Linked DNA regions of Homo sapiens: regions 2, 3, 4, 5, 6 and 7 are each reported to be linked to region 1. The links are microRNA targets in miRTarBase. Many come from high-throughput screens and were not tested one by one. Region 1 holds a microRNA gene; each other region holds the end of a gene's coding sequence.

What was found. The annotated mature microRNA hsa-miR-5192 reads AGGAGAGUGGAUUCCAGGUGGU and lies in region 1 at 2,882-2,903, shown strand. An mRNA with a match to its seed (bases 2 to 7 or 8) in the 3' UTR can be bound and repressed. Matches are read on the target gene's strand: a 7mer-m8 pairs with bases 2 to 8, a 7mer-A1 pairs with bases 2 to 7 and ends in A, and an 8mer does both.
Region 2: the mRNA of ANKRD45 is a reported target of hsa-miR-5192. Seed matches in the 3' UTR shown: 7mer-A1 at 1,977-1,983 and 7mer-A1 at 2,017-2,023.
Region 3: miRTarBase lists ZMAT5 as a target of hsa-miR-5192. Seed matches in the 3' UTR shown: 7mer-m8 at 476-482.
Region 4: miRTarBase lists ZNF69 as a target of hsa-miR-5192. The part of its 3' UTR that is shown has no 7-base or 8-base seed match.
Region 5: miRTarBase lists BHLHA15 as a target of hsa-miR-5192. Seed matches in the 3' UTR shown: 7mer-A1 at 3,258-3,264 and 7mer-m8 at 2,516-2,522.
Region 6: miRTarBase lists SUPT4H1 as a target of hsa-miR-5192. Seed matches in the 3' UTR shown: 7mer-A1 at 3,807-3,813.
Region 7: the mRNA of POLE3 is a reported target of hsa-miR-5192. Seed matches in the 3' UTR shown: 7mer-m8 at 1,918-1,924.

The regions. Positions count from the first base shown.
Region 1 is chr2:62,203,001-62,207,075 of GRCh38, forward strand. MIR5192 (microRNA 5192) reads left to right here and starts at 2,826; the gene lies at 2,826-2,917. The region is part of intron 1 of B3GNT2 (UDP-GlcNAc:betaGal beta-1,3-N-acetylglucosaminyltransferase 2); the gene reads left to right. RefSeq lists an enhancer at 1-116.
Region 2 is chr1:173,606,715-173,610,789 of GRCh38, reverse strand. It overlaps ANKRD45 (ankyrin repeat domain 45), which reads left to right. Exons shown (of 6, transcript NM_198493.3): 6 at 575-2,454. The coding sequence ends at 645. Among named protein-coding and RNA genes, the nearest start is that of SLC9C2, 5.7 kb to the right of the region's middle.
Region 3 is chr22:29,727,514-29,731,513 of GRCh38, reverse strand. It overlaps ZMAT5 (zinc finger matrin-type 5), which reads left to right. Exons shown (of 6, transcript NM_001003692.2): 6 at 160-558. The coding sequence ends at 289. CABP7 (calcium binding protein 7) reads right to left here. Exons shown (of 5, transcript NM_182527.3): 2 at 3,709-3,852; 3 at 2,772-2,884; 4 at 2,306-2,459; 5 at 1-2,072. The coding sequence ends at 1,945. Among named protein-coding and RNA genes, the nearest start is that of CABP7, 9.5 kb to the right of the region's middle.
Region 4 is chr19:11,905,340-11,909,414 of GRCh38, reverse strand. ZNF69 (zinc finger protein 69) reads right to left here. Exons shown (of 4, transcript NM_001364730.1): 4 at 2,719-4,075. The coding sequence ends at 3,317. Among named protein-coding and RNA genes, the nearest start is that of ZNF700, 18 kb to the left of the region's middle.
Region 5 is chr7:98,212,490-98,216,564 of GRCh38, reverse strand. It overlaps BHLHA15 (basic helix-loop-helix family member a15), which reads right to left. Exons shown (of 2, transcript NM_177455.4): 2 at 1,108-4,075. The coding sequence ends at 3,686. It overlaps TECPR1 (tectonin beta-propeller repeat containing 1), which reads left to right. Exons shown (of 26, transcript NM_015395.3): 26 at 1-1,941. Among named protein-coding and RNA genes, the nearest start is that of BHLHA15, 3.1 kb to the right of the region's middle.
Region 6 is chr17:58,342,406-58,346,480 of GRCh38, forward strand. It overlaps SUPT4H1 (SPT4 homolog, DSIF elongation factor subunit), which reads right to left. Exons shown (of 5, transcript NM_003168.3): 5 at 2,773-3,908. The coding sequence ends at 3,841. The region is part of intron 3 of TSPOAP1-AS1 (TSPOAP1, SUPT4H1 and RNF43 antisense RNA 1); the gene reads left to right. Among named protein-coding and RNA genes, the nearest start is that of SUPT4H1, 7.8 kb to the right of the region's middle. RefSeq lists an enhancer at 1,813-2,342.
Region 7 is chr9:113,405,552-113,409,626 of GRCh38, forward strand. It overlaps POLE3 (DNA polymerase epsilon 3, accessory subunit), which reads right to left. Exons shown (of 5, transcript NM_017443.5): 4 at 4,059-4,075; 5 at 1,684-3,432. The coding sequence ends at 3,260. Among named protein-coding and RNA genes, the nearest start is that of POLE3, 3.1 kb to the right of the region's middle. RefSeq lists enhancers at 3,922-4,075, 4,024-4,075.

The sequences.
Region 1 (4,075 bases):
CATAAAGCAGCCTTTCCTTATCCCCTGTGCAGTGCTTCATATTTCATCTAAGTGTTTATCAACCTTACAGCAATCAACTCTGACTTGGTTCTTTGCTGCCTGTTTTCAACACTGCTTGGTTTAAGTAGGCGTTTGACATTTGTTGAGTTAGGCCACTTCATTAAAGTTAGTCTTAGTAGAGGGGAAACTGAGGGCTCAAACCAGGGCAGGGATAGTACAAGATTGAAATATGTATGTGTGTTGTTTGGAAGAGGTGGGTGAGAGAAAGACTCCTGGTGGGTGTAAAGGAATTTGGAAACCAACTAAGGGAGGTTAGGAGAAGGGCCATGACACAGGTATATTGGGGCATTTTTTAGCATACGGGATATGGGAGTCTGTAGTGATGTCTAGGGGACAAGAATAGGGGGTAAGGGAAGACCCAGCAATAGACTTGGGCCCAGAACTGTGGAGCAAGTCCATTTTGTGGGATGGGGCCAAGGAGCAAAGGCTGCCAACATGCAAGAGAACCCTGGGGGTTCCTGAGCTTGGGGTGGGGTAGACATGGTGGCCAGCAGTATTGGGTGCCCTAGAAAGTCAGGAGGGTGCAAGGACTGCGAAGATTCTAGAAGGTGAGGGGGATTGGGAGGGTCAAGGCAGGACAAATGGGCATGACAAGGAGCATGTGCCTGGTGCCTTTGGAGAGGGAGAGGCTGAAGATGGGGGAAACAGTGGAGATTGCTATTGGTGCAAGACCCCAGAAGCAGCAAGAGCTGTCACAGGGAGTGGAGATCCTGGGAGTTGGGGGTCAGGGACTGGCTGATGTAGAGAACTTGAAGTAGGTTTTGGTCCCAGAGCTGACATCAAATGTCTTTGTAGCTATGGCAACCCACTTAGCTCCTGTTTCCCACCTCCCTGCAGAATCGCATGAAACCTGCACAGCCAATTTCACATGTTTATTATTGGAATCCATTGAACTCATGAATATGAAAGTGTTAATGCTCTGGGAAGATATTTCTATGGACCATAAACTTGCTGCAGTTTATTTGTGCTTCAGAATTTTTTTTGAGACAGAATTTCCCTCTTGTTGCCCAGGCCGGAGCGCAATGGCATGACCTTGGCTCACTGCAACCTCTTTCTCCTGGGTTCAAGCAATTCTCCTGCCTCAGTCTCCTGAGTAGCTGGGATTACAGGCATGCACCACCATGCCTGGCTAATTTTGTATTTCTAGTAGAGACAGGGTTTCTCCGTGCTGGTCAGGCTGGTCTCGAACTCCCAACCTTAGGTGATCCACCTGCCTTGGCCTCCCAAAGTGCCTGGTAGAAATTTTTCTAATTGTTTATTTTCTTTGAGAAGCACTTAACATCCAACTGGTTCTCCAAAGTACTTCTTTTTTGAGTCTTGATCAGGGAATAACACAATTGTGGTGAGTTTTATGTGCATGTGTGTTTTTAACCCTCCAGGTCTGGCTCTAGATTGTTCACTGGGAAGCCGAATGATATTTTCAGATTCAAATATATTTGTCTAATAATGAAAGGGTCGAAGTGTTACAAATGCTATCCTTTCTAAATAGTCAACATTTGGAACTAGTGAGATATATTTTTACCTTTATTATTTTATGGTTGTCTTTGAAGCTTGTTTATAAGGAACTTTTATGTAACTTTATTCTTGAGATGCAGCCATTATATTTTTGTTCTTTTCCTTTACCACATAAGGAATTATTTCCTTCAAATGAACTTAAAATATCTCTCATGAATACTCCTATTTTTAACTGAATGTTTCTCTTTTTTAAAAAACTTTTATTCTTCAAAGTTCTGATGGATCGTCTTTTTTTAACTCTTTATAATGGAAATTTTCAAACAAGTGCAGATACAGAGAATGGTATCATGAAGCTTCAGGTAGCCACCAGCGGCTTCAGGGTGATGATTCTTTATTTTCATCTCTACCCCACTCACGACTAGGGGCCCATGGGCACCATCTAGAGAGGGAGAGAGAAGAAGGTCACAATGGACCACAGAGTGGGCAGCCATCAATTTAGAGATAGCGGAGGCTGGGGGAGAAGATTGGACGCCCCCAGGGAGAGTGACAGGCAGACCGGCGAGATTGGAAGCCCGTGGCACTGGGATTGCTGTGGTCCCTCGTCCCTCCACATATGTGATCACCTATGGTATATGAAGGGAACGTGCAGAGACTCGTTTAAAACTGAGGTGACTCAAATTGCTTGGTAAAAGAGGCCCAGTTTTTAAGCAGTTCAATAGTGCCCACATATTGAGCAAACATGTTCTCTTTTTACTGTGGCGACAAAAACTTTTCTTGGCGGGTGGCCGGAGAAAGCTATGTTACTATTGCACTTCTTTAAATACGGAAGCAAGTCTTGGTCGAAGGCCTGAATGATGCCTCCCCTTTTATAGAACATTTGGATAAAAGGCCAAAGTGTTACTTTTTTTTGAGGATACGTATTTTAAAATGTATATGGTTTATTTTGATACTTAAAAAGCAACAACTTGAAAACAACAGTCCTGAAACACTTGTCAGTAAGGTGTTAGGATTTAACCAGCCTTTGAGAAAGGGAGAAGAGGCGGGACAGGAATCCGAGATGGAGCAGGGAGCTGGTTTGCTTCTTTGCCGCCTTGCTCTGAAGTTGCCACCCAGGGTCACACATCACTAGAAGTGTTTTCCTCTGGGAGGAGGATGATGTCTGACTGTGGAGAAGAGGCAGCATCCCAGAGGGAGCCCAATTTAACTGGATGCTCAGTGTGAGAGGAGGAGCGCTGGCATTTAGTGGCTGTGTGCCGTGGGCGGGGCCTGCCAGCCCTTGGCTGTCATTTGCCACCTGAGGGACAGGCTGCTTAGTTCCAGCCTCCTGGCTCACCTGGAACCATTTCTCCTGGGAAGCATGGTAGCCAGGAGAGTGGATTCCAGGTGGTGAGGGCTTGGTACTCCTTTTGGGGGATCCTGAGTGCCAGGAGAAGAGGATGAAATCGATGGACTGGGGGAATCAAGGCTGTCCTCATGGAAGAGGAGACAGGATTTGAACCTGGGCCTTCAAGGATGGGGGTAAGGATGGAGAGAAGCAAGATAAGGGATGTTTTAAGCCAGGAGAAACCAGGCTGAGAAGAGGTATGGGTGGGGAGGATAGTAGTTGTTGTTAAGGGGTGCTGGTGTCTAGAGGCCTCCGGGATGGGGTTTTAGGGGTGGCCTGCCTGGATCAAGGATCAGCTTGGACGTGCTCAGCGAGGATGGGGATGCCCATTTCCCTCCATGCAGCTCTGGGCTGGGGGCGGCCCATCTGGGTTCTCAGTTCCTGCCCTCTCCCTCTACTTTTTCTGGGAACATCAGACAACTTTCTGATCCTGTGAACCAGTTTACTTCTCTGTGAAATGAAGACACCTCAGTCACCACTTGACTGTGTATCCAATTGCGCCCATGGCATATGGACAAGCCCTCACTCAGCTAATGGGTGGGCACTAGGTGTGCAGTGGTTAATTTGTTTTATTATAAGGAGTGTCCTTGATACCTTTATCTCATTTCTCTATTTTTTTTCCCTTCCCCAAAGTGTTAGACCATGCACTTTAATCCAACATTATTTTTATATGTTTTTTATTCTTGTAGAGACAGGATCTCTCTCTGTTGCCCAGGCTGGCCTCGAGTGATCCTCTCACTTCCACCTCCCAAAGCACTGGGATTACAGGTGTAAGCCACTGTGCCTGGCCTAGTACAACATTATTTAAAAATCTCTACACATGTCTACTCTGCAGAACTTTCTGCACTCTTTGTGCCTGCTTTTGGAAGAGCGAGTCAGGCAGTTCTCTCCAAGCTGCTACCCTACAAGACTCCAAATGGATAAGCCAAGGAGTCCTGCAGTCTGAGGTTGTAGTACCTCACTTTCTGGTGTCCCCTTCGCTGTAACCAAGAGCATATTCTCTTTTAAGAAAATGTGTCACTGGAAACCTTCATCCTAACTACCAAGAAATTGAGACTTCCCAAAGCAATTTATTAAATTACTTAAAATACAATGTCATTTGTATAATTGTGAACACTTATTGAAGTTACAGAAGGTTATTTTTAATATGCTATATGTAATCTCAAGTTGCAGCAT
Region 2 (4,075 bases), not on the chromosome of region 1:
AGACAGGGTCTTGCTATGTTACCCAGGCTGAACTTGAATTCCTGGGTTCAAACAGTCCTCCTGCCTCAGCCTCCTAAGTAGCTGGGACTATTGGATATACGGTTATTCCCACCTCTCCACCAGTACCATTAACCTGGCCCAACAATCCCCCCTCCTTCCCTTCTCACCTGTGAAGATTTGCCTCTCTCCCCCGACCCCCTATATCACATGTTCTCTAAGCACCTTCATATCACAGAATGTTAGATCTTGATGGAACCTCTGAAATGAACCCTGACTTTGCAGTGAAGAAAGTGAAGACAACAGAGGTTTAGCGGTTTATTCAAAGTTACTCTCATCAATGGCAGAACTAGGGACAATAATACTGATTATATGGGAAATGTGACCTCACAGCTTTAAATATAGTGAACAGGAGAGACTATTTGAATGACATACCAACAACACTAGGGTTGAATTAGTAGCTGGTTCAGCCTGGGACAATCTAATTTATTCCATTCTTATTGTCTTAAAAACTGGCTTCATTTTGTTTCATATTGCAAACTAATTAAATGTAATTTTAAAATCTGTTTCCTTTCAGGTCAAGTGAAAAGTGCCAAATCTGTAACAAGCCATGACCAGAAGAGAAGTCAAGATGATACCTCCAACTGAACATACGTTCTGTAAAAGGCCACATTTTCTTTTAGTATCTGAAAGGCAAACCTATTCATGCCATTTGAAATCGAGAAAACAGATGTGGGTTTCTTTAAGTATTTAAGTACAACATTACATCGCCCTTGTTTTGTTTGACCTGTTCAGCATGCTTATGTCCGGACTCTGGCCTCGCCTCTGCTCCTCCAAGCACAGCCCCATGTGAGTTTCACGTGCTCCTTCAGGAAAGCACTTGGGTATAAATCATTCGTGAAGACCATGTGGAGGCTTTAAGAACTACTCAGAGAATCTAATAATTTTCTGTGTAATTGAGGCATTCCATATAAAAGGACATATTTGGCTATTTCCAGAGAAAAAATTTGTTCTCCCTGCCTAAAAAGGAAATCTTATGGAATGACACTTGGAGCAAGGAAATATTAAGACCAGCTTGGATTAGGAGCCTCTGGGTACAACTATCACTTTTTATGTCCAAAATTAAATTTCACCTGTGAGGTGGGGTATACCTCTGAGTAAAACCCCTCTTTATCTTTGACCTCCTTCTATCTGTAAATTAATAAACACAAATCTGTATAGTTTTATACTTAGAAGAGTTCTCCTATTCTGTAAGGCTGGCAATACAGATATTGTAACTGGACTGAAGACCATTTCCCCTCCCATTCTGTTTTATATTTCCTAGGTTTTAAGTACGATAGTTGGTTTCATATTGGTGGTTTGGAAAGCCTTTTTTCTAATTTATTTAATCAGGCGCCTCAACCTTCTCTTACGTTGTGACTTTATGGAAAAGTTTTATAGAAAAGAAGATGGTTTTTAAAAAGCACTTATTGTTCGTTCTTATGGCTTTCTCTTCTTTGTCCTGTTCTGAAAGCTAGTTTTCCCTTATGGGGAGAAGGAAAAGGAATGGGTAATTCAGTAATACTTTGTCAGTTGACATTTATTTAACCATGGTTTTGAGATAACCCTGTTTTAAATGTCTCCCAAAGTTTTTAGTTTTTTATCCTTTTAATGTATGAGCAATTCAGTTTCAATTTTTTAAAGCAAAAGAACACTGCAATAACTTTCAGCCACCTTTTTGGCCGACCCAGTGGGTGTTTATGGAGCAGTACAAAGAAGACCTGTGTTTGCTCCTTTTTTTTTTTTACCCTCCTTCTCCCTTCTCCCTTTTCCCTTCCCTTCCCCTTCTCCTTCCTCTCCCTTCCTCTCCCTTCCCCTCCCTTCCCCTCCCTTCCCCTCCCTTCCTCTCCCTTCCTCTCCCCTCCCCTCCCTTCCTCTCCCCTCCCCTCCCTTCCTCTCCCCTCCCCTCCCCCTCCTCTTCTCTCTCCTCCTCCTCTTCCCTCTCCAACTCCTTCTTCTTCCTCTCTTATCTCTCTCTCTCTCTCCACCCCCGCAACCTTCTTGACAGGGTCTGCCTCTCCTGCCCAGGCTGGAATGCAGTGGAGTTATCATGATCATAGCTCACTGTAACCTGTAACTCCTGCACTCAAGTGATCCTCCCACCATGCTTGGGTAATTGAAAAAATAAACATTTGCAGGCTGGGTGCTGGCTCACACCTGTAATCCAAGAACTTTGGGAGGCCAAGGCAGGCGGATCACCTGAGGTCAGCGGTTTGAGACAAGCCTGGCCAACATGGTGAAACCCTGTCTCTACTAAAAATACAAAAATTTAGCTGTATGTGGTGGCACGTGCCTGTAATCCCAGTGACTTGGGAGGCTGAGGCAGGAGAATCACCTGAGCCCGGGAGGTGGAGGTTGCAGTGAGCCGAGATCGCACCACTGCATTCCAGCCTGGGTGACAGAGTGAGACTCCATCTCAAAAAATAATAATAAAAACAAATAAAAATTTGCAGAGATAGAGTCTTGCTACGTTTCCCAGGCTGGTCTTTGAGTTCCTGGCCTCTAGCATTCCTCCTGACTTGGCCTCCCAAAGTCCTGGGATTACAGCTGTGAACCACTATGCCTAGCCCATTTTCTTAATACAGTATATTGTGCGAAGACCGGTGTCCTTAAGGACTGCAATAATTTAGGAAAAGTCCAGGTGCCATTTTTGTCCTTTCTACTCTAACGCTACATTTTCTGAGCTTGGATTTTGAATACAACATTATTTTCCAGGAGTGTGTTCCAGATTAGGGAGGGATTCCTGGATTCTTACTTCAAAGATTTCTAAATTAGACCAAGGCATTTCTGGAGACCCCTTAGTATAAAATAAACCTATTTTCCCTCTTTATTAATCTTTCAATCCTTATCCTCAAACTTTTTATAGCTTTTGATATATTTGCTGATGCTATTTTTAAACTCCTTGTGTTGGTACTTTTATGTCAATTATGATTCCTCTACTCTCTTAAAACTGCTTTTCTAACTCCTTCACCAGTTCCTCTTCTTCCTCTTGCCCCCAGTTGTGAGAATTTCTCAAAATTCAATCCTAACCTTTGGTAAAGCAATCTGTAATTCTCTATTCCATGACCTTCCCTGTCACCAGTATTATGAAGAATGAGTCTTTCCCTCTTTAGGGCACCCATAGTGCTAATAGCCTCATACTGTATTCTACTTAATTGTTCACAGGTTTGTCCTTCTGTGTGAATTGTAAGCTTTTTGAGGGTAGGGATTTTGTTTTGTTCTTTTTTTATACCTAAAAAGTCCATAAAACAGTAAGTTAGTAAATAACTGAATGAATTATCTTTTAGTAATACCTTATACATAGAACTCATTACCTCTTCATTAATTTATAGAGCTTGTGCACCTTTATAAAAATGACTCCCAACACTTATCTCCATATCTTGCCCCATTTTAACTCCTACTCCTCTAGCAGATAAGCCACACATACATCCAACATCTCTACGCCTAATTTCTCCTCTGACCTTCTATTTTCTAAGCCTTCACATTGAATGTCATTTTACTTTCTGGCATGTGAACCAAGTGATTACAACAGATTCCTGGATCTCATGTCAAAGATTCCTTTGATGTGAGAATCTGAACATTTATTTATATCTATAGATTTACAATTTTAGTCCATTTTGAGAGTTATAGTATCTCTTGTTACATATTGTTACATTGAATTATAGATCTATTCATAGGCAACTTTAAATGCCCGTAGGCTTTGAGTTTGAGCTGTTACATAGGTAGCTGCATGGCTTTTTCTGAACATCCACAAAGTAATTACTATTCAAAGTGCATACTAATAAATCAATGAAGCCTCCACATTATTTGGGAAGTAGTCAATCAAAGGCTAAATTCAATGTTATGATAACTTTTAGGCAGTAGTTCTTTAGACTTCTGTATTTAATTGAACAGAAAAAATGTAAAAAAAGGGGAGGAGATTGATAGGACATCATTAATAAAACAACTACTATCTACTATCACTATCATTTAACAAAAGACATTTTAACACCAGAAAAGGGAAGAGATCTCAGTGTAGGGCTCTACCCTTTAAGTTAAA
Region 3 (4,000 bases), not on the chromosome of region 1:
TCAAACGGTCTGCCTATTTTCGAGGCTCTGCCTTCCAGAAAAGTCATGCAGGCAGCTGACCCTCCCCACAGCCAGGGTGGTGAGGCAGGTGGGCTGGGGGTGGCATAAGCCTGGGCTGTAGTGCACTCTTATTCTCCCCGCTTCTCTCTCTCTCTCTAGGGCTGAACCCATCAGAACCACTGTCTTCCAGTACCCCGTGGGCTGGCCACCAGTTCAGGAGCTGCCTCCATCCCTGCGGGCACCCCCACCTGGGGGGTGGCCTCTGCAGCCCAGAGTCCAGTGGGGCTGAGCCCCTTGCCCCCGACTGACCCCCACGTGGTCACTTTTCTCATCAGTCACAATAGGAAGCCAAGCCCGGTTCCTGCTACGCCCCATGGAGGCTCCGAGACCATCTGCCCAGCCTCACTGAGGCTCAGGACACGGCCACACCAAGTGCAGCCCTCGTCCTGGGTCTGCACCGGGCAGCTCTCCCCTCACTCTCCTCCACCTGCCCCCCTGCTTCTTAAGAAGATGGGGGAGAAAACTTCCAAATGTTTATAAAGAAAGTCTGTCACCACAGTGGTCTGGCTGTGTTTCCCTACACTGGGTGCTCTGAGCTCTGTTCTCCAGCCCCTAGCAGAGGTCGGGCAAGGAGGGAATCAGATGAGATTTTCCCCAGGTGACCCACGCTCACTCCCTTCTCCCTTGGGACCAGCAGAGGTTCAGCACGGCCAGGCAGAGGGTGTGCCAGGGTGGCTGTGCCCGTTGCCTGGTAAGAAGTGGCTCTAGGCCCAAGGAGCCCAAGGGCTCCATCTGCCATCCCCGCCCTGGAAGAATCCACAGCCCCCATGTCTGCCCATGCTGAGCTGCTGCCCAAGTATTTGGGATGGCACAGCTGGGGCATGGGAGCGGGGTCTCCAACCTTGAGGGCGTAGAGAAGTGGGAGGACAGGAGGGCAGGCCCTGGGCTGAGAGAGTGGCCTGGCGCAGCCTCTTGGCACTGACAGTGTGGGGCTGTGCCAGTTTCTTGGCCCAGGAGGTAGTACAGGGGCCCTCCCAAAGTTCAGCCCTGGAGGAGCCCCCTGGCTGGAGGCTGCTCAGAGCCTTCAGGCCCCAGCTCTGCCTCCTTCCTCAGCTGGACTACAGTTCTAGGCTCTAGGCTGGGGTGGTGGACAATGTGGCCTTGGTAGCTGGGCCTCTGGTGGGAGGGCCAGAAGGTGGGGGGCTGCAGGGCCACCTCAGATGCCCATCCTCCACGAGCTTCTGCCTTTCCTGAAAATCCCTGTGGAAGGAAGAACTGAGGCCAAGTCTCGGGGCCCTGAGCCTCGGGTTCCTCACCTGTGAAATGGGCTGGCCCAGCAGGTACATGGAGAAAAGGGGGTCTGGGTTGGGGTCCAACGAGGGTCAGAGGAAGGGGCCCAAGGAGAAGACCAGGGGCCTCCTCAGGCTATGCCAGGCAGCAAGGCCCAGGACACCCTGGCTTCCCACCCTCCCCCAGGAGAAGGCTTTCTGTCCCTGCCTGTGCCCTGTGCCCTGGGCAGACCTCAGGGACCAGGGCTGGGTTGGCTGTGTGGCCCCAGATAGGCTGCTGTCTCAAGGCACAGGGTGCCCGCTCCTGCCCAAGGGACCACAGCAGCGACTGGGTCCTGGGGGTTCCTGTGCAAATCCCTCCTTAATTTCCCAGGAGCCCCTGGATGGTAGGAAGAGTGAGTGCTCCTTACAGGCCAGGGTGGGGACAGGGTGGGGCTGGGGACCATCCTCAGAGCCACCACCCGGCCCTCCACAGCCAGGCCACAGCTCCAGGTGAGGACCGTGGGTGGGTGGGGAGGGCTCGCTGGATACCCAGGCCCTGAAGTACACGCAGATGGCGGCCCAGGGAGCCGGCCAAGGGAGAGGTCTGCAGGCGGCGGTGGTGTGGGGCGGGCCACGGGCACCGCATGCGGTGGATGGGGCATCCAGGTGGCGTCTACTTCATGCCACTGCGCAGCACCTGGTTGGCCGCAATGAGCATGACACTGATGATGAAGGCGATGGCGAAGGCGCAGATGAGACTCTTGCGCACGCAAGTCTGGCGGATCTGCTGGTTGGAGCAGGCTGTGGCCGCCCGCCGGGAGCACCGGGGAGACAGAAGGGGACATCAAAGCGATGGAGTCAGGAGCCGCCTGCCCTTCGGCACATGGGCTCATCCCATGGGGTGCCCCAATGGGACAGAGGCTTAGGACAGGCAAGGAGGCCCCCAGCCCCCCTCTGCAGACTCTCCCCACCCCGTGCGTCCCCCTGGCCAAGTCACTGGGCCCACCCGTGGGGTTCCAGGGCCAGCCACTCACTCTCCACATCCACGGGACACTCCTCGGCTGTGCCCAGGTGGCTCTCCTCCTCCGTCATGATGATGTTCTCTATGTCCTTCATGGACAGGTGCTCGCAGAAGGTGTCGTAGAGCAGCCGCTTCAGCTCATCCACCGTCAGCTTCTGCATGTCGCACTTGCGGAGGGGGACAACACGGTGCTCTGAGAGCCACCGCAGCCCCCACCCAGCACCCCACGGCCATACAGACCCGGTGACAGGCCTCTAGATTCTGGGGGGCTGGAAAACACTTGCTCCATTCCCCCAGAGAGTCCTTGACCAACACCGGCCTCCCCAGGGAGCCCATGGCCCTCTGAGAGGTGAAATGTCCAGTGGACACAAGCCTGAAGTGGTCATCCCCCCTTTACAGTGTGGGCCCAGCCATTCACTGGCTCCAGAACAGAACTCCACAGTGTGCACAGCCCTGGGTCCCAACTAGCCAGGGGATACCTTCCAGAAGACAGTATCAAAGTCGGTGCCATGGAACTTCTCTGGGATCCCTGAGGTGGAGAGTTTGGGTCCCAGAAGGGTCACAAACTCCTCAAAGTCCACTTGACCATCACCTGGTGGAGGCACAGGTCCAATCAATCAGTGGGTAGGGCCCAGGCCTGCAGCCCAGGGCCCAGAGGTCCTGGGATGGAGTCTTGATACACCTTGGGCCTACCGGGTGGCCTTAGGCAGGTGCCCGCCTTCTCTGAGCCTTGAGTCAGTGTCAGGGGCATCTACCAAGTGCCAGGCTCTGGGCTGACGCTGAAGCCACCCAGTGTGATGAGGCCTTACAAGGGGAGGTGGAGGTAGACAGCAGGTGGGCCGTGACCCTCCTATTTCACCCAGAACCCTCCGTTGCTCCCAGCACCCTGCGGCCATCCTGGGGTGGGCCATCCTCCACCATATAGACAGGAACTGAAGCTCAGAGTGGGGCAACCTGCCAAGGCTGTCACCTGGCCTCTGGATGGAGAAGAGGAGAAGAAGGGCCCGGGTGGGATAAAGAGGGGGCTTGGCATCACTATTCCTTATGAACTTTTCCTTAATAAAATGCCAGGTGGCAAACACAACTCAAGTAGTCATTTTATCTCAGGTGGTGGGAACTGGAGTATTTATTGCATCCTTTTACTTCTCTGTACTTTAAAACTTCTCAACACAGAGTGAAAGGAGCCATCTCTGAGCCCTGCATGTGGCTGGGACTGTCACTACCTCTCTGGCCTCAATTCTCCAGGCTGAGAAATGGGGCCAGACCGGGCTGCAACCTGCCACGGACTTTGAGGGTGGGAGTCAGGGGAGCGAGAGACCCAATTTGGATGCAGCCTCAGCAGCTCAGGCCCCAGCCCCTGCCCCACCCCCAGGGCCCAGATGCCAGGTGGGGAAACCGAGGCGGGGGGGTGCTCACCATCCATGTCCAGCCGCTGGATGATGACCTCCAGCTCCACCTCGTTGGGCATGTAACCCAGTGAGCGCATGGCTGTGCCCAGCTCCTGCTTGGAGATGAAGCCATTGCCGTCACGGTCAAACACCTTGAAGGCCTCTCGGATCTCTGAGGAGAGAATGGAGTAGGCTGGGACTTCACCCCGGTCCCCAACAGACCCCCTTTCCAGACCCCCAGGATCACCGACCCTGCAGCCTGAGCATGGCCTTGAGAGCCCAACCCAGAGCCTGCAGATCTGGTGAGAGCATGGCCCGAG
Region 4 (4,075 bases), not on the chromosome of region 1:
GATTTTTGCATCGATGTTCATCAGGTATATTGGTCTAAAATTCTTTTTGTTGTGTCTCTGCCAGGCTTTGGTATCAGGATGTTGCTGGCCTCATAAAATGAGTTAGGGAGGATTCCCTCTTTTTCTATTGATTGGAATAGTTTAAGAAGGAATGGTACTAGCTCCTCTTTGTACCTCTGGTAGAATTCAGCTGTGAATCCATCTGGTCCTTGACTTTTTTTGGTTGGTAGTCTATTAATTATTGCCTCAATTTCAGAGCCTGTTATTGGTCTATTCAGGGATTCGACTTCTTCCTGGTTTAGTCTTGGGAGGGTGTATGTGTCCAGGAATTTATCCATTTCTTCTAGATTTTCTAGTTTATTTCCATAGAGGTATTTATAGTACTCTCTGATGGTAGTTTGTATTTCTGTGGGATCGGTGGTGATATCCCCTTTATCATTTTTTATTGCATCTATTTGATTCTTCTCTCTTTTCTTCTTTATTAGTCTTGCTGGCGGTCTATCAATTTTGTTGATCTTTTCAAAAAAACAGCTCCTGGATTCACTGATTTTTTGAAGGGTTTTTTCTGTCTCTGTCTCCTTCAGTTCTGCTCTGATCTTAGTTATTTCTTGCCTTCTGCTAGCTTTTGAATGTGTTTGCTCTTGCCTCTCTAGTTCTTTTAATTGTGATGTTAGGGTGTCAATTTTACATCTTTCCTGCTTTCTCCTGTGGGCATTTAGTGCTATAAATTTCCCTCTACAAACTGCTTTAAATGTGTCCCAGAGATTCTGGTATGTTGTGTCTTTGTTCTCATTGGTTTCAAAGAACATCTTTATTTCTGCCTTCATTTGTTATGTACCCAGTAGTCATTCAGGAGCAGGTTGTTCAGTTTCCATGTATTTGAGTGGTTTAGAGTGAGTTTCTTAATCCTGAGTTCTAGTTTGATTGCTCTGTGGTCCGAGAGACAGTTTGTTATAATTTCTATTCTTCTACATTTGCTGAGGAGTGCTTTACTTCCAACTATGTGGTCAATTTTGGAATAAGTGTGATGTGGTGCTGAGAAGAATGTATATTCTGTTGATTTGGGGTGGAGAGTTCTGTAGATGTCTATTAGGTCCTCTTGGTGCAGAGCTGAGTTCAATTCCTGTATATCCTTGTTAACTTTCTGTCTCATTGATCTGTCTAATGTTGACAGTGGGATGTTAAAGTCTCCCATTATTATTGTGTGGGAGTCTAAGTCTCTTTGTAGGTCTCTAAGGACTTGCTTTATGCATCTCAGTGCTCCTGTATTGGGTGCATAAATATTTAGGATAGTTAGCTCTTCTTGTTGAATTGATCCCTTTACCTTTATGTAATGGCCTTGTCTCTTTTGATCTTTGTTGGTTTAAAGTCTGTTTTATCAGAGACTAGGATTGCAACCCCTGCTTTTTTTGTTTGTTTTCCATTTGCTTGGTAGATCTTCCTCCATCCCTTTATTTTGAGCCTATGTATGTCTCTGCACGTGAGATGGGTCTCCTGAATACAGCACACTGATGGGTCTTGATTCTTTATCCAATTTGCCAGTCTGTGTCTTTTAATTGGAGCATTTAGCCCATTTACATTGAAGGTTAATATTGTTATGTGTGAATTTGATCCAGTCATTATGATGTTAACTGGTTATTTTGCTCGTTAGTTGATACAGTTTCTTCCTAGCCTCAATGGTCTTTACAATTTGGCATGTTTTTGCAGTGGCTGGTACCGGTTGTTCCTTTCCATGTTTAGTGCTTCCTTCAGGAGATCTTTTACAGCAGGCCTGGTGGTGACAAAATCTCTCAGCATTTGAATCTGTAAAGGATTTTATTTCTCCTTCACTTATGAAGCTTAGTATGGCTGGATATGAAATTCTGGGTTGAAAATTCTTTCCTTTAAGAATGTTGAATATTGGCCCCCACTCTTTTCTGGCTTGTAGAGTTTCTGCCAAGAGATCCGCTGTTAGTCTGACGGGCTTCCCTTTGTGGGTAACCCGACCTTTCTCTCTGGCTGCCCTTAACATTTTTTCCTTCATTTCAACTTTGGTGAATCTGACAATTATGTGTCTTGGAGTTGCTCCTCTCGAGGAGTATCTTTGTGGCGTTCTCTGTATTTCCTGAATTTGAATGTTGGTCTGCCTTGCTAGGTTGGGGAAGTTCTCCTGAATAATATCCTGAAGAGTGTTTCCCAACTTGGTTCCATCCCTGTCACTTTCAGGTACACCAATCAGACATAGATTTGGTCTTTTCACATAGTCCCATATTTCTTGGAGGCTTTTTCATTTCTTTTTACTCTTTTTTCTCTAAACTTCTCTTCTCACTTCATTTCATCCATTTGATCTTCAATTACTGATACCTTTTCTTCCACTTGATTGAATCAGCTACTGAAGCTTGTGCATGCATCACATAGTTCTCGTGCCATGGTTTTCAGCTCCATCGGGTCATTTAAGGTCTTCTCTACACTGTTTATTCTAGTTAGCCATTTTGTCTAATCTTTTTTCAAGGTTTTTAGCTTCTTTGTGATGGGTTCGAACATCCTCCTTTAGCTTGGAGAAGTTTGTTATTACCGATCATCTGAAGCCTTCTTCTCTCAGCTCGTCAAAGTCAAAGTCCAGCTTTGTTCCATTGCTGGCGAGGAGCTGCGTTCCTTTGGAGGAGAAGAGGCGCTCTGATGTTTAGAATTTTCAGCTTTTCTGCTCTGGTTTCTCCCCATCTTTGTGGTTTTATCTACTTTTGGTCTTTGATGATGGTGATGTACAGATGGGTTTTGGTGTGGTTGTCCTTTCTGTTTGTTAGTTTTCCTTCTAACAGTCAGGACCCTCAGCTGAGGTCTGTTGGATTTTGCTTGAGGTCCACTCCAGACCCTGTTTGCCTGGGTATCACCAGCAGGGGCTGCAGAACAGCAAATATTGCAGAACGGCAAATGTTGTTGCCTGATCCTTCCTCTGGAAGCTTCGTCACAGAGGGGCACACGGCCGTATGAGGTGTCAGTTGGCCCCTACTGGGAAGTGCCTCCCAGTTAGGCTACTTGGAGATCAGGGACCCACTTGAGGAGGCAGACTGTCCATTCTTAGATCTCAAACTCCATGCTGGGAGGACTGCTACTCTCTTCAAAGCTGTCAGACAGGGACATTTAAGTCTGCAGAAGTTTCTGCTGCCTTTTGTTCAGCTATCCAGAATGCATTCTTATGTGTGCTTGTGTCCTTTACTGAATTCGAAGGTTCTGGGCAGACCTGAAGGGTTTCCCACATTCTTTACATTCATGGTTTCTCTTGATTGTGTGTCCTACCATGCATTCAAAGGTGTGAGGCAGATCTGAAGGCTTTCCCTCATTGCTTACACTCATAGGGTTTATCTTCAGGGTGAGTCCTACCATGCATTCGAAGGACTGAGGCAGCTCTGAAGGCTTTCCCACATTGCTTGCATTTATAGGGTTTCTCTCCAGTGTGAGTCCTTTCATGGTATCGAAAGGAACTGGAACTACTGAAGGCTTCACCACATTGCTTGCATTCATAGAGTTTCTCTCCAGTGTGAGTTTTTTCATGTCTTTGCAATGATTTGGGACAATAAAAGCCTTTCCCACATAGCTTACATTTATAAGGTCTTTCTCCAGAGTGTATTCTTACGTGTGTTTGTGTCCTTTCATGACTTTGAAGGTTCTTCATAGATCTGAAGGCTTTCCCACATTCCTGACATTCATAGGGCTTCTCTCCAGTGTGAGTCCTACCATGCAATTGAAGGTGTGAGGAAGATCTGAAGGCCTTCCCACATTGCTTACACTCATAGGGTTTCTCTCCAGTGTGAATCCTTTCATGATAACGAAGGGAACTGGAATGAATGAAGGCTTTACCACATTGCTTGCATTTATAGGGTTTCTCTCCACTGTGAGTTTTTTCATGTCTTTGAAATGAATTGGCAGAACAAAAGCCTTTCCCACATATCTTACATTCATAAGGTCTTTCTCCAGAGTGCATTCTTATGTGTGTTTGAAAACTTGTAAGAGAGGATAATGCTTTCCCACACTGCGTACATTCATAGGGTTTTTTCCTAGAGTGGGTCCTTTCATGTATACGAACATACTGGGGACA
Region 5 (4,075 bases), not on the chromosome of region 1:
AAAAAAGTGAAGGAAGGAGACAGCAGATTGGAAATAACACTGGAGTGGATGGGATGTCCTCTTCCCTGAGGGGGCCGGGGTACCAGACGGGAGGCTGGGAGAGGATGAGAGGCTGCCCCATGGCTGGAGGCAGTGTCCGTGTGTGCAGTCACCATCATCAACCCCCATTCGGCCCCTTCCCCAGATGCGCTGGTGACAGGGGCTTCTTGGATGTCAAATCATGTTGTAGGAGGGTGCAGACTGCGGGCTTCTGTGGGGAGCAGTACTACTGTGTCTGTCGGCAGTGGCCATGGGACCCTCAGCCCGTCCTGTACATGGAGCAGGGTGCACAGTCACCCTCCATCCTGTGGCGAGAGGCTGGCCCGGCCCGGCCAGGCGAGGCAGAAGGTGTCGGCCAAGTGGCCCCGACCCCATCCCGCAGTCTCTCAGCTGCTTTTTATTACCTCTGTGCCCCATTTGGGAGTTTGCTTCCTCCACCTGGACACTTTGCCCGGGAGGTCATCAGAGCCCAACCCCAGGCTCTGCTCGGTTGGAGAGGGGATGACTTCACCACCACCTGACCTTCCTAGGGTCCTGGTCTCACTGTCAGCTGGGGGTCCGTTGTGTGTATTTGTACAGTTTTGCTGTATGGGGTTTGTCACCCAAAAGCTGATGCTGAGAAAGGCCTCCCTGGGGCCCCTCCCGCGGGCATCTGAGAGACCTGGTGTTCCAGTGTTTCTGGAAATGGGTCCCAGTGCCGCCGGCTGTGAAGCTCTCAGATCAATCACGGGAAGGGCCTGGCGGTGGTGGCCACCTGGAACCACCCTGTCCTGTCTGTTTACATTTCACTATCAGGTTTTCTCTGGGCATTACGATTTGTTCCCCTACAACAGTGACCTGTGCATTCTGCTGTGGCCTGCTGTGTCTGCAGGTGGCTCTCAGCGAGGTACGGGGAGGGCGTCACCCTGCAGAACGGCAGAGTGACGCGTCCTCTCGCTGCTGAGCACCAGCTGTTTACCTGCCCTGCATCACTTCCTCGGATACTTTACTCAATAAGCATTTCCCCTGGAGTGTCCGTGCCCTGGTGTTTTTTATCGATACGTTGATTAAAACGCGTGGTTCCCCGTGTGCCTGAAGCAGACATTGCTGTGAAATCTTTTATTTTTGTTTTATGACACAGCATCAATTTCATGAATACTTTGAAAGGGCCATTAGAAAAAATAAGAGCCAATTTGGGTCATTTGAGAAACATTTTCAGCACAATTACAGTGGGGGCACGGGCCGTTCGGCTCCAGCTGGGTTTTCCCAGATGCAACAATCGCGGTTCTGGCTTCTCCACTGGTGGGGATGGGGATCGCGCCTTCGGAGCTCTCAGGGCGCCTGTCTGTCGGGGGCTGGGTGCGTCCACAGCCCCGGGGGATGGCGCGTGGCGTAGCCCAGGAACGGCATGTGGGTGGGTCTCTGACCTGCTTGTGCAGGGACTTGAGGGACCTCATCCCGATGGCCGAGGCAGGGGCTCCCCACGGGATAAAAGGATCCGGCCTGGCCTTGGGGTCCAAGAGGAGGGCCAAGGGAGTGGACCTGGCCCCTGTCCCCTCTCCTCCTCGAAACACTGGACACCCTGAAGCGAGACTATGGCTGCTGAGGATCCTGTGTGATGTGGCCGCGGGGCGTCCCCTCTGGCCTCAGGGGAAGAAGGACTGGGCGGCTCGGCCCAGGTCACCCTCTAGGAAGCAGAGGAGGTGCAGGTGCCAGTTCAGGGCAGAAAGAAAGAGCCACTGAGGCCATTGTCCTGAAGGCGGTGACCCCCAGGCACTCCTGCTGCCCCCCAGGAAGCCCTGGGCTGCGCTGGACACCGGGCCGAGTCTCCGTCTTCTGGACCGAGGCTCTTCTGGGCTTTCAGGCTCAGCTCGTCGGTCCATTCAGCAAGTTCAGGGGCAGACTGAGCCCTGCTCTGGCCATGGCTCAGCCGGAAACAAGAGCTGCCATGTTCGTAGCACCTGAGTACCCCCGCCGGGGAGGTCTCTGTCATCTCATGTCCCCGCTGGGCAGGTGCCCCACAGCAGGGGAGCCCTGGGCTCTCTCTGTCCCAAGCTCCCAGCTGCATCCAACCTCAGCTCACAGTTGTGGATCACCCTGACCTTCCAGAGTGCCCCTCCCAAGGGGCAGACCCAGCATCCTGGAGTCCCCACCCCGAGCTGTGCTGAAGGACAGCTGGGGCGGTAGGGCCAGGACCAGACCAGGCCTCTGACAAAGTCTCATCGAAATGAAACCAATGTGCCCGGGCCACCTTAAGGGGCCCTGACCAGGAAAGTTAGGCCTGAAGCTGCCAATGCCAGATCCTCAGGGTGTTACCTGTGTCCTTACGTGGCTAGGCCTGACCCCAAGTGCCACAACCCCCAACTTGGGGAGGGCAGGGCCACCTGGTGGGGACGGGCCAGCCAGAGCCCTTGGTCTCAGCTGTGGCAGCCACATCCCTGGCCCGGCTTGGCCCTGAGGGCCTTTGGGACATCTCTGGGCAGAGGCATGAGGGAGGGGAGAGTCCAGTAGCCAAGTCCGGCAGAGCCAGTGGGGCAGGAACGCCCAGCAGAAGGAAGCTGGGCTTGGGGCAGCAGAGACGTGCCAAGCCACCAGGCCTGGCCATGAGGATGAAGCACCTGGGCGGGGGAAGGGACGTACCTGCCACCCCAAGGCTCCACCAGGCAGAGAGACCCAACGGGCTGCCAACTCAAACCAGAACCCAAGCACGTCATAATGTCCTACAGACAGCATGGTGCCAATTATATGATAACCCCACATCAGTGAGAATAAGTAACGGCGGTGGCAGGGGCTGGGTGGGGGGCACACTCGCTCCCCACACAGGCCAGGGCTGAGCAGGAGGCCTCAGAGCTGCTCTTGGGGAGCAACCCAGGGCCTTGGGGCTTCTCTCCCATGCCCAGAAGGGCTGCACCAGGAACACCCAGCCCTGTCTCCTGCTCCAGTTCCACAGCACCCCTCACACCCTGCCCCAGACCCTCCACAACCAGGCACAGCCTGGAGTCAACACATCCAGGAGCCCCAACTTGGGAGGAGGGAGGAAGAGACTCCAGCCCCTCCCCACCATTCAACTTTTAAGGATGAATTGGAGGTCATCTGATTAGAGTTTCTGGCAGCTCCAATCATCTCTGATTGGCCCCACTCCCCGAGCAGCCTTAGGCTCTGCCGGGCTTGTCCCGGGCCTCAGTTTACCCCAAATGAGGATGCTGAGCCCAGGCCCCATGTAGCCCTATAACAAAGGTTGGAGAGGGGGTCCTTGCTGGGGCTTTGGCCTTGGAAAACCTGCAGGTAAACCTTTTCCTGGGATCTCCCCTTGCCCAGAAGTCAGGGTGAAGAGACGTTAGTTCCAAGGCTAAGGAGGCCTTTCAACTCGGGCTGAGACTGCCTGGCTCAATGAAAAATCAGGATCCAACTGGGCCCTACCTAGAGGTTTGGGCCTCACGCCGCTGTCCAGGGCCACAGCCGCAACTAGGCCACTCGCTGGTCCCCAGCGGGGCAGGAAAAATTGCTCCAGGGAAGTGGCTGAATGTTCGGGGGAAAATGGAACCGCTGAGGCCGTGTCCTTGTGGGGTGTCACCGCCCATCTGGGGCTCGTGGCTTGGAGGGACTGGGGCTGGGAGGAGCAGGCCAGGCAGCTGCGGCCACCGCCACCCCCACCCAGGACTGGGCGCTAGGTGCCCTCTCGGAAGCTGTGGATCTGCGTGGAGTACCTCTGCAGGTGGCCCTGGGGCTGGGCCTCCGTGGCCCCCAACGCACCCCCAGCCACCTGCTGCTGCTGCTGGTAGTGCTGGTAGAGCTTGGGGCCCGGCCCCTCCAGGCCTGGGAGGCGGCTGCTGGACATGGTCAGGATGGTGGCCGTCAGCGATTTGATGTAGTTCTTGGCCAGCGTGAGCGTCTCGATCTTGGAGAGCTTCTTGTCCGCGCGCACGTGGGGGATGACTTCACGCAGGGCCTGGAAGGCGTTATTTAGCTTGTGCATCCGCTGCCGCTCCCTCTCGTTGCTCTCCAGCCGCCGCTGGATGCTGCTGTCACGACGGCCACCGGGCCCGGAGGGTCCTGG
Region 6 (4,075 bases), not on the chromosome of region 1:
TGCAGCCAGGGGTAACTCATGAAGGGCTAGACTGGTTTCCCAATGCTCTGCACAGGAATCCTTGAGTAAATCCCAAGGATCCCCTCCCTGGGCCATTGCCCCACTGCCTCCATCTCTTTGGCTAATTTTAGACTTAGGGACTAGAGTGGTGGGATTAGAGTGGTTGGTGGGCTCAACGTGTAGGGACAATGTGTTGTAATAACTTCACTCAGAAGAAAGCTAATGCCTCACACTGGTTCTGTTGAACACTTATGGAGGGAAAAAAACTTGCTGTGTTTGTGGACAACTATGTCACAAACAGTTAGTAGCCCTAAACTTAGTGTGGACATTATATTTCTTGAGCTGAGGCTCCACTACTTGATTATGGCTAAAACACTTTTAACTCTTTTCTTCCCCACCCCGAGACAGAGTCTTGCTCTGTCACCCTAGCTGGAGTGCAGTGGCACGATCTTGGCTCACTGCAACCTCCGCCTCCCGAGTTCAAGCACTTCTCCTGCCTCAGCCTCCCATGTAGCTGGGATTACAGGCGCCCGCCACCACACCTGGCTAACTTTTTATATTTTTAGTAGAGACGGGGTTTCACCATCTTGGCCAGGCTGGTCTTGAACTCCTGATCTCATGATCCACCCACCTTGGCCTCCCAAAGTGCTGGGATTACAGGCATAAGCCACCGTGCCCAGTCAAGACACTTTAACTCTTTGAGTCTCAGTCTCCTCATCACCAAATAAGGATGTTAACTAGTTCCAGGGTTTCTGTGAGAATCAAATGAGATACTGGATATGAAAGCCCTTTGTCAACTGTATTTGGGTTTGTTTTGTTGTTTTCTGAGACACGGTCTCACTCTGTCCCCCAGGCTGGAGTGCAGTGGCGCCATCACGGCTCACTGCAGCCTCAAACTCCCAGACTCAAGGGATCCTCCCACCTCAGCCTCCCAAGTAGCTGGGACTACAGGTGTACACCACCATGCCTAGCTAATTTTTTGTAGAGATGGGCTTTTGCCATGTTGCCCAGGTTGGTCTTACACTCCTGGGTTCAAAGTGATCTGCCCGCTTTGACCTCCCCAAGGTGCTGGGATTAGAGGCATGAGCCACAGCACCCAGCACCTTTGTCAACTGTAAAAATATTTACATGAAAGGCTTTACTGATACTAAACATGAACCAGACTTCCAGACAAAGTTATTATTAGTCTGTTCTTAAACATGACCTACCTGCCTCTTTCATAGAGACCAGATGTCAGGGAGGGGACCTGAGGATCAAGTAGCAGGCTGCAGACAGACTAGGAGTAACAAGGCAGAAGCCACACCAAGAGCAAAGCCTCAGTTCCCAACCCTGGTGAAACTGCTCCCCTCCAAGACCAGACCATCCTGACCCTTGCTCTATCAGCTACCAGTCCTTTCTTGAGCTGGAGGCTGCATTATCAATGCACTGCCACTGAGCTCCTCAGTGTTCTGGGAGACCCTAATTCCACAGTATGTGGCAGGGAGGAAGCAGGGAATGAGGCAAGGGCAGGCAAGGGGAAGGCAGCCTGGCTACTATTCCTAGTCTCTGTCTGACTTGCATCTGTCCTTGTTGAGCTAGGGAGGAGGCTTGCTCTTCAGGAGAGAAGCCAAACTACTGAGCAAGACAAGGAGAGATCTTAAGATGCTATGCACTCAGAACTTCGGCAGCCAGGACGGGACTGAAACTCTGACAGACACAATGGGCCAATGGGGCAGGACATAGCTCTCATGGCTGCCCTCATAGCCATGGAAAGCAGGGCAGCAGTACCAGGACCGCCCACTCCCAGGGAGCTGTGAACCAAGTCCTTGTCTTAGTTTCTTTGGGTTCCCAGTAGAGGATGGGACTCCAGCACCTTTCTGCCTGTCTGGGTTGCTGAGTGGCACCACCTGCATGTTCAAGTACCAGAGAAAGCAAGAAAGCTAATTCAGCAGCAGCTCCCGGGGAGAGCCCACTTGGCACAGTCTGTAGAGTCCAGGAAGGAAAACAGGCCACCCTTCCCCCACAAGCATCAATGCCTATGCTATGTCTTTTGCTTCCTGTGAGACTGTCAGTTAGGGCCCAGTTCAGTGTAGGGCTGAGGCAGCCTGAATGTGGTTATTTGTGCAAGCTCCTCTTGCCTCCCCTCCCCACAACTGTTTCCATTCTCACCAAGCAGCCACGTCCGGGTCAGACACCCAGGACAGCAGCTGGGGCTTTCCAAGGGACTTTTTGAGAAGCTAGTGAAAGTTGGGTGTTGGCTGCACAGCCTGGGCACTTGCTGAAACGCACTTCTTCCATCCAGGACGTAAGCTCTAGCCTGGCAGGGTTGCTTTCAGGTTGAAATTGAACAGAAATCACCACCCACGGAGCTTTCTGTTTGCTGGGCTGGGGAAATCCTTGAGAAACTCAGTTTGGAGTTGGGGTTATCTGACCATTCCCTCAGAGCTTGAAGGCACCAGAGAAAATGGTTTTGGTTTGAAGACCATAGTGGACATGAGCAGCCCGGCCAGTCCCAGTTTCCCTCCCATAGGCCTATGTGAGGACAAGGAAGGGGAGTAGACAAACTAATCAGAGTCAGGTCGCATCTCTCCTCCTTCCCACACTCTCCAGGCCACAGGTAACAAGCAAAATCAACTCAAGAGCAACACCAGGTGGCTGAGACACAAAGCCCTAGCACAGGCAGCTCTGCCCTAGCACAGCACAGCTCACCCTGCAGTTGTGGTTCTCAGCATTTCCCCTACTATTTTGGCTGATTGTGCACATATTCTATGTATTGAAAAATGGCCCAAAAAGGAGAGCAAAAGTATTTCACCTTTATAATACTTATATAATTTTCACATAGCTTCGTTTCTACAATCACAACAATCCTGAGGTAAACAGGCAGGGTGCAATCATTCTCTTTTTAGAGGGAGAACAAGGAACTTAGGGAAATCAAAATGGGGATACGAACAGGATTTCTGTGGAAATTTAAATGAGAATTTGTGGTAAATTTTTTTATCCTAAAACAACTCACCTTGGCCGAAAAATGGGATGTTACCCAAGGTCCCCTACTAGGCCGGAGGAGAAAAGGACCTACCTCCTACAGGGGCACAAACAAGGGAGACTAGGACTCAATGGTCGCCCAAGGCCCAAGGGTCTCCAGTGAGTGCTTGAGACTGGCCTAAGGTATAGGAAGAGCCGTGAAGAGAAGAAAATAGACAAGCAGGGGAGGGAAGAATTATTAAACATGGTCAAGGAGCACTCTACAAAGCCTCAGGATTTCTTCAAGGGATACTGCTGTGCCAGGTCTCGAGGGCAGAAGGATACAAGTGTGAGACACCAGGGCCACCAAGTTGATGGGGTTACTGAGCCTCTGGATCAGCACCCTCCGATAGGAAGCAAGGAAGCACACTACAAAGGCTGCAATCCCAGAGGCTGAGACAGTCAAGAGGGAGTAGAAGGGCCTCTGCTGCTCTGGGAAGGTTCTTATAGGGCAAATAAGCTATTACTGTGCCTAAGAGAATGGAAGAGGGAGGCAAGGCAGGTGTCATGGCCTTCAGAACTTTCTCGAGGTTCATATTTATTGACATTTGACCTAGAGTCCTTGGCATGGGGAAGGCACAGACCTGGGCCACGGGTAGGAAAATCAGCATCCTACTCTCTCCTCAATTCCATCTGTTAATCCACCAACCCAAATCCCTCCCACCCCACCTGTAGTCCAAAGAAGATAAAATGATAAAATGATGTGCTGCTCTCTCAACAGTCAGCTGAGTCTGAATTGGAGGGTAGGAAGTATTTGAAGTTCTGTTCATTTAGTTCCAGAACAAGAAATAAGCAGAGGCAGGAGGTGGAGAGCAAAGATGCTGGCAGCCTTGCATCTTGCTAGGTCTTTATAGCTGTGTCTCTGGATTTGTAGGCCACTCCTCGACTTTTCAGCTCCCGCACGATTCCTGAAGCAGGAAAAGAAACAGTTCTGTGAGGTAAGATTCAGAAGGGTAAGATAGGCCACTCAGCTGCCACCTTGAGGGGGGTACTATAAGCAAACTGGAGTTCCTAGACTACTTATCAATCGTCTGCTTGGCCAGGCACGGTGGCTCATGCCTGCAATCTCAGCACT
Region 7 (4,075 bases), not on the chromosome of region 1:
GAGTTCGAGACCAAGACCAGCCCGGCCGATGTGGTGAAACCCCATCTCTACTAAAAATAAAATTAGCTGGACGTGGTGGCCGGTACCTGTAATCCCAGCTACTAGGGAGGCTGAGGCAGGAGAATTACTTGAACCGGGGAGGCAGAGGCTGCAGTGAGACAAGATCACGCCACTGTACTCCAGCCTGGGTGACAGAGCGAGGCTCTGTCTCAAAATAAAAAAGAAAAAGCTATGTAGATTAGATAGGTGATATAGCATTGTGGTAAAGAGATAATAAAGGTAACAGCAGTGCTGCTTCATAGGGTTTAAGAGTTAATACTTAGGGCTGGGTGTGGTGGCTTATGCCTGTAATCCCAGTATTTTGGGAGGCCAAGGCAGGAGGATTGCTCGAGCCCAGGAGTTGGAGACTGGCCTGGGTAACACAGACCCTGTCTCAAATTAAAAAAAAAAAAAATTAAGGCCGGGCGTGGTGGCTCACACCTGTAATCCCAGCACTTTGGGAGCCTGAGGCGGGTGTATCACGAGATCAAGAGATTGAGACCATCCTGGTCAACATAGTGAAACCCCATCTCCACTAAAAATACAAAAATTAGCTGGGTGTGGTGGCGTGCGCGGCTGTAGTCCCAGCTACTTGGGAGGCTGAGGCAGGAGAATCACTTGAACCAGGGAGGTGGAGGTTGTAGAGAGCCGAGATTGTGCCACTGCACTCCAGCCTGGTGACAGAGTGAGACTCTGTCTCAAAAAATAAATAAATAAAAATAAAAAAGGGTTAATACTTGAAAGCAGTTAGTGCCAGACACAGTAGGGGGCTCAATAAATGAAGCTGCTGAGAATCTAGTATGTATAAGGGTGCCCAGCACATCCATGAAAAGCTCTTGCACCGGCCAGGCATGGTGGCTCACCCCTGTAATCCCAGCACTTTCGGAGGCCGAGGCAGGCGAATCATGAGGTCAGGAGATCGAAACCATCCTGGCTAACACAGTGAAACCCCATCTCTACTAAAAATACAAAAACAAAATTAGCCAGGCATGGTGGCGAGTGCCTGTAGTCCCAGCTACTAGGGAGGCTGAGGCAGGAGAATGGCGTGAACCCTGGAGGCAGAGCTTGCAGTGAGCCGTGATCATGCCACTGCACTCCAGCCTGGGAGACAGAGTGAGGCTCCGTCTACAAAAAAAAAAAGCTCTTTCAGCAGGTGTGTTGGCTCACGCCTGTAATCCCAGCACTTTGGGAGGCTGAGGTGGGTGGATCACCTGAGGTCAGGAGTTTCAGACTAGCCTAGCCAACATGGTGAAACCCTGTCTCCACTAAAAATATAAAAATTAGCTGGGCATGGTGGTGGGTGCCTGTAATCCCAGCTACCTGGGAGGCTGAGGCAGGAGAATTGCTTGAACCTGGGAGGCGGAGGTTGCAGTGAGCCGAGATCATGCCACTGCACTCCAGCCTGGGCGACAGATTGAGACTCTGTCTCAAAAAAAACAAAACAAAACAAAACAAATGCTCTTGCAGTAGTTCAGAGCCCTTGCCTGTGAATGAGCAGCACCTGCTGGTCATCCAAGGCGATGCAGTATCTCATGTTTACAAAGGTCTGGCCAGGACCACACGCCAAAAACTGCATGGAGAGTATCATCAGGGGCTCTCTCCAAAAACACACTGTGAACAAGCAGCATGAAACAGGAGGCATCATTTTTTAACAAGACTTTTATTTGTACAAAGCATTACAATCTTCTCAGCATTCTTCACTCACAAACTTTTCACTGTATTTAACAAGTTAACAGTGTCAAACTACACGTCACTACCTGTCAAACCCCAAGCACTCAACTTAGAAACAAAAAGCGCTTGGAGCACTGAATGGAAACAGAAAAAGGCTAAGAAAGGCCAACAGAGATATTTTAGAAGCAGTTAAAGAGGATGGTTTAGGGAGAGTTAGATTCCTGAGCACCATCAGATTTCCCTTAAGGTTTTTTGTGAAGGGGCTTCACAAAATAATTTTTAGAAGACATGAGACAAAATTAGCCAGGCTTGGTGGCACGCATCTGTAGTCCCAGATACTCAGGAGGCTCAGGCGGGAGGATCACCTGAGCCCAGGATTTCAAGGATGCAATGAGCTATGATCATGCCACTGCACTCCAGCCTGGGCCACAGAGTGAGAGACTCCATCTCTTAAAAACAAAACGTGAGATTAGAACTAAGGAATCAAGAGATCAGAGGAACTCACACTTTGGAGTATTAAGCAGGTTATCAAAGCTTACAGACTGACAGAAGTGAGAAAAGGAGGCAGATGAGAAAGTGGGATGGGGAGCAGAGGAGAGGCAGGAGAGAGAAAGGAAGCAGGAGGCACAGAGGGAGAAAGCTGTGCCTAGAGAAAATCAAGTTTGGCACTCGTCATGAATTGAAGAATGAAAAGCCATAGTCACAAGTCTGGGAGATGGACTACAAGAAGAGGAAGCCTGGGGTTTTACACCTTCCGGGAGGTGATGACAAATCCTAAAGCTGTACAGTAGCAGAGAGTAAGGTACATCTGACACTATGCCATCTGTTTTTGTAAAAGACACTGGCACCATGTTTGACTAATACCATTCCACACTGCTGATTTAAGAATATCTGTGATCAGATTACTACCACACCAGCAGGCCGATCATCTACAGGCAATATAGAAAGGTTTTGGGCCAAGTGGGTCTATGAAAAACAAAATTCAGTTAATGCTTCTGTCAAGTGAAGAGAGAGAACGGATTTTGTTATTCTCCCACAGCATTTTAGTAGTTTCCTAAAGCTTACTCATTCTGAGCAGTCTTAGTAAGCTACTATTGTCAAAGACTGTGCAATCAAACATAGGCTGACCATAAGCAAAGCCCCAGTTTTTCCTGAGCCTTGGCTGCCTCTGTGATCTGGAACACAGCAGGCAGCATGGAAGTTATTATTACTTATTTGGGGGACTAGGGAAGACTGCAGATCAAAAACCATCTAACCATACATTTAAGTAAACAAAAGCGAGCAAACTGACTAATTTAGTCGTTCAGAATCCCTCTTGTCAAAAGGCCATAACCTTCAGATTGATGAAGCAAAACAGGATTCTGCTACTCAGATGCTCTGAGTTTGGTAAGTGCTGGTTTTGACGGTATTTCTAGTCAGTTTTTATTCTGATCTTTTCAGGCACTTTTGCCTGAGACTACTCTGCCCAGCATGGAAAAGCTTCACAGAAACACGTAGCACGTCTCATTTCAAGTGGTACCTTCCAAGGTGCCACAGTCTCCCGCCCTTTTCAGTTGTCTACTTCTTCCTCTTCATTCTGTTCTTCTTCTTCCAGCCTTTCTTCGTCTTCATCATTGTCCTCATCCCTGCTCTTGTCTTGCTCTTCCGAGTCTGTTTTTTTGTCTTTGTCCTTCTTCTTTTGCTCTGAGGCCTCCTTCTTGCCTTTCTGCTCCCGCCTATATGCTGTAAGGACGGAACAAGGGGTTAGGAGACAGAGCTGAAAGTGAGCCAGACGGACTGCAGGAGCTAATTACATTGTACAATTGGAAAAACGGAGGCAGATGGGCGCGGTGGCTCACGCCTGTAATCCCAGCACTTTGGGAGGCTGAGACGGGCGGATCACCTGAGGTCAGGAGTTCAAGACCAGCCTGGCCAATATGGTGAAACCCCGTCTCTACAAAAATAAAAAATGAGCCGCACGTGGTGGCGTGCGCCTGTAGTCCCAGCTACTCGGGAGGCTGAGGCAGGAGAATTGCTTGAACCCAGGAGGAGGAGACTGCGGTGAGCTGAGATCCCATCACTGCACTCCAGCTTGGGTGACAGAGCAAGACTCCGTCTCAAAAAAAAAAAAAAAAAAACAAAAACAAGAAAAGCAAGACAAAAACAAAAACGGAGGCAGAGAAGGAAAAATAACTTGCTCAGCATTACAAAACAGATCTGAGGTGGTGCCCACCGAACTGGGTCGAGTCACATCAAGTGCTGGCTTACTGGACTTAAAGGGACCCGCGCTGAGAAGGCTCAGGGCCTGGTGAACAGGTCACACAGGATGACCATCTTCTATGTGGTTTAGAAGACAAGAGGCTCGTTACCTTCCAGAGCTTCTTTC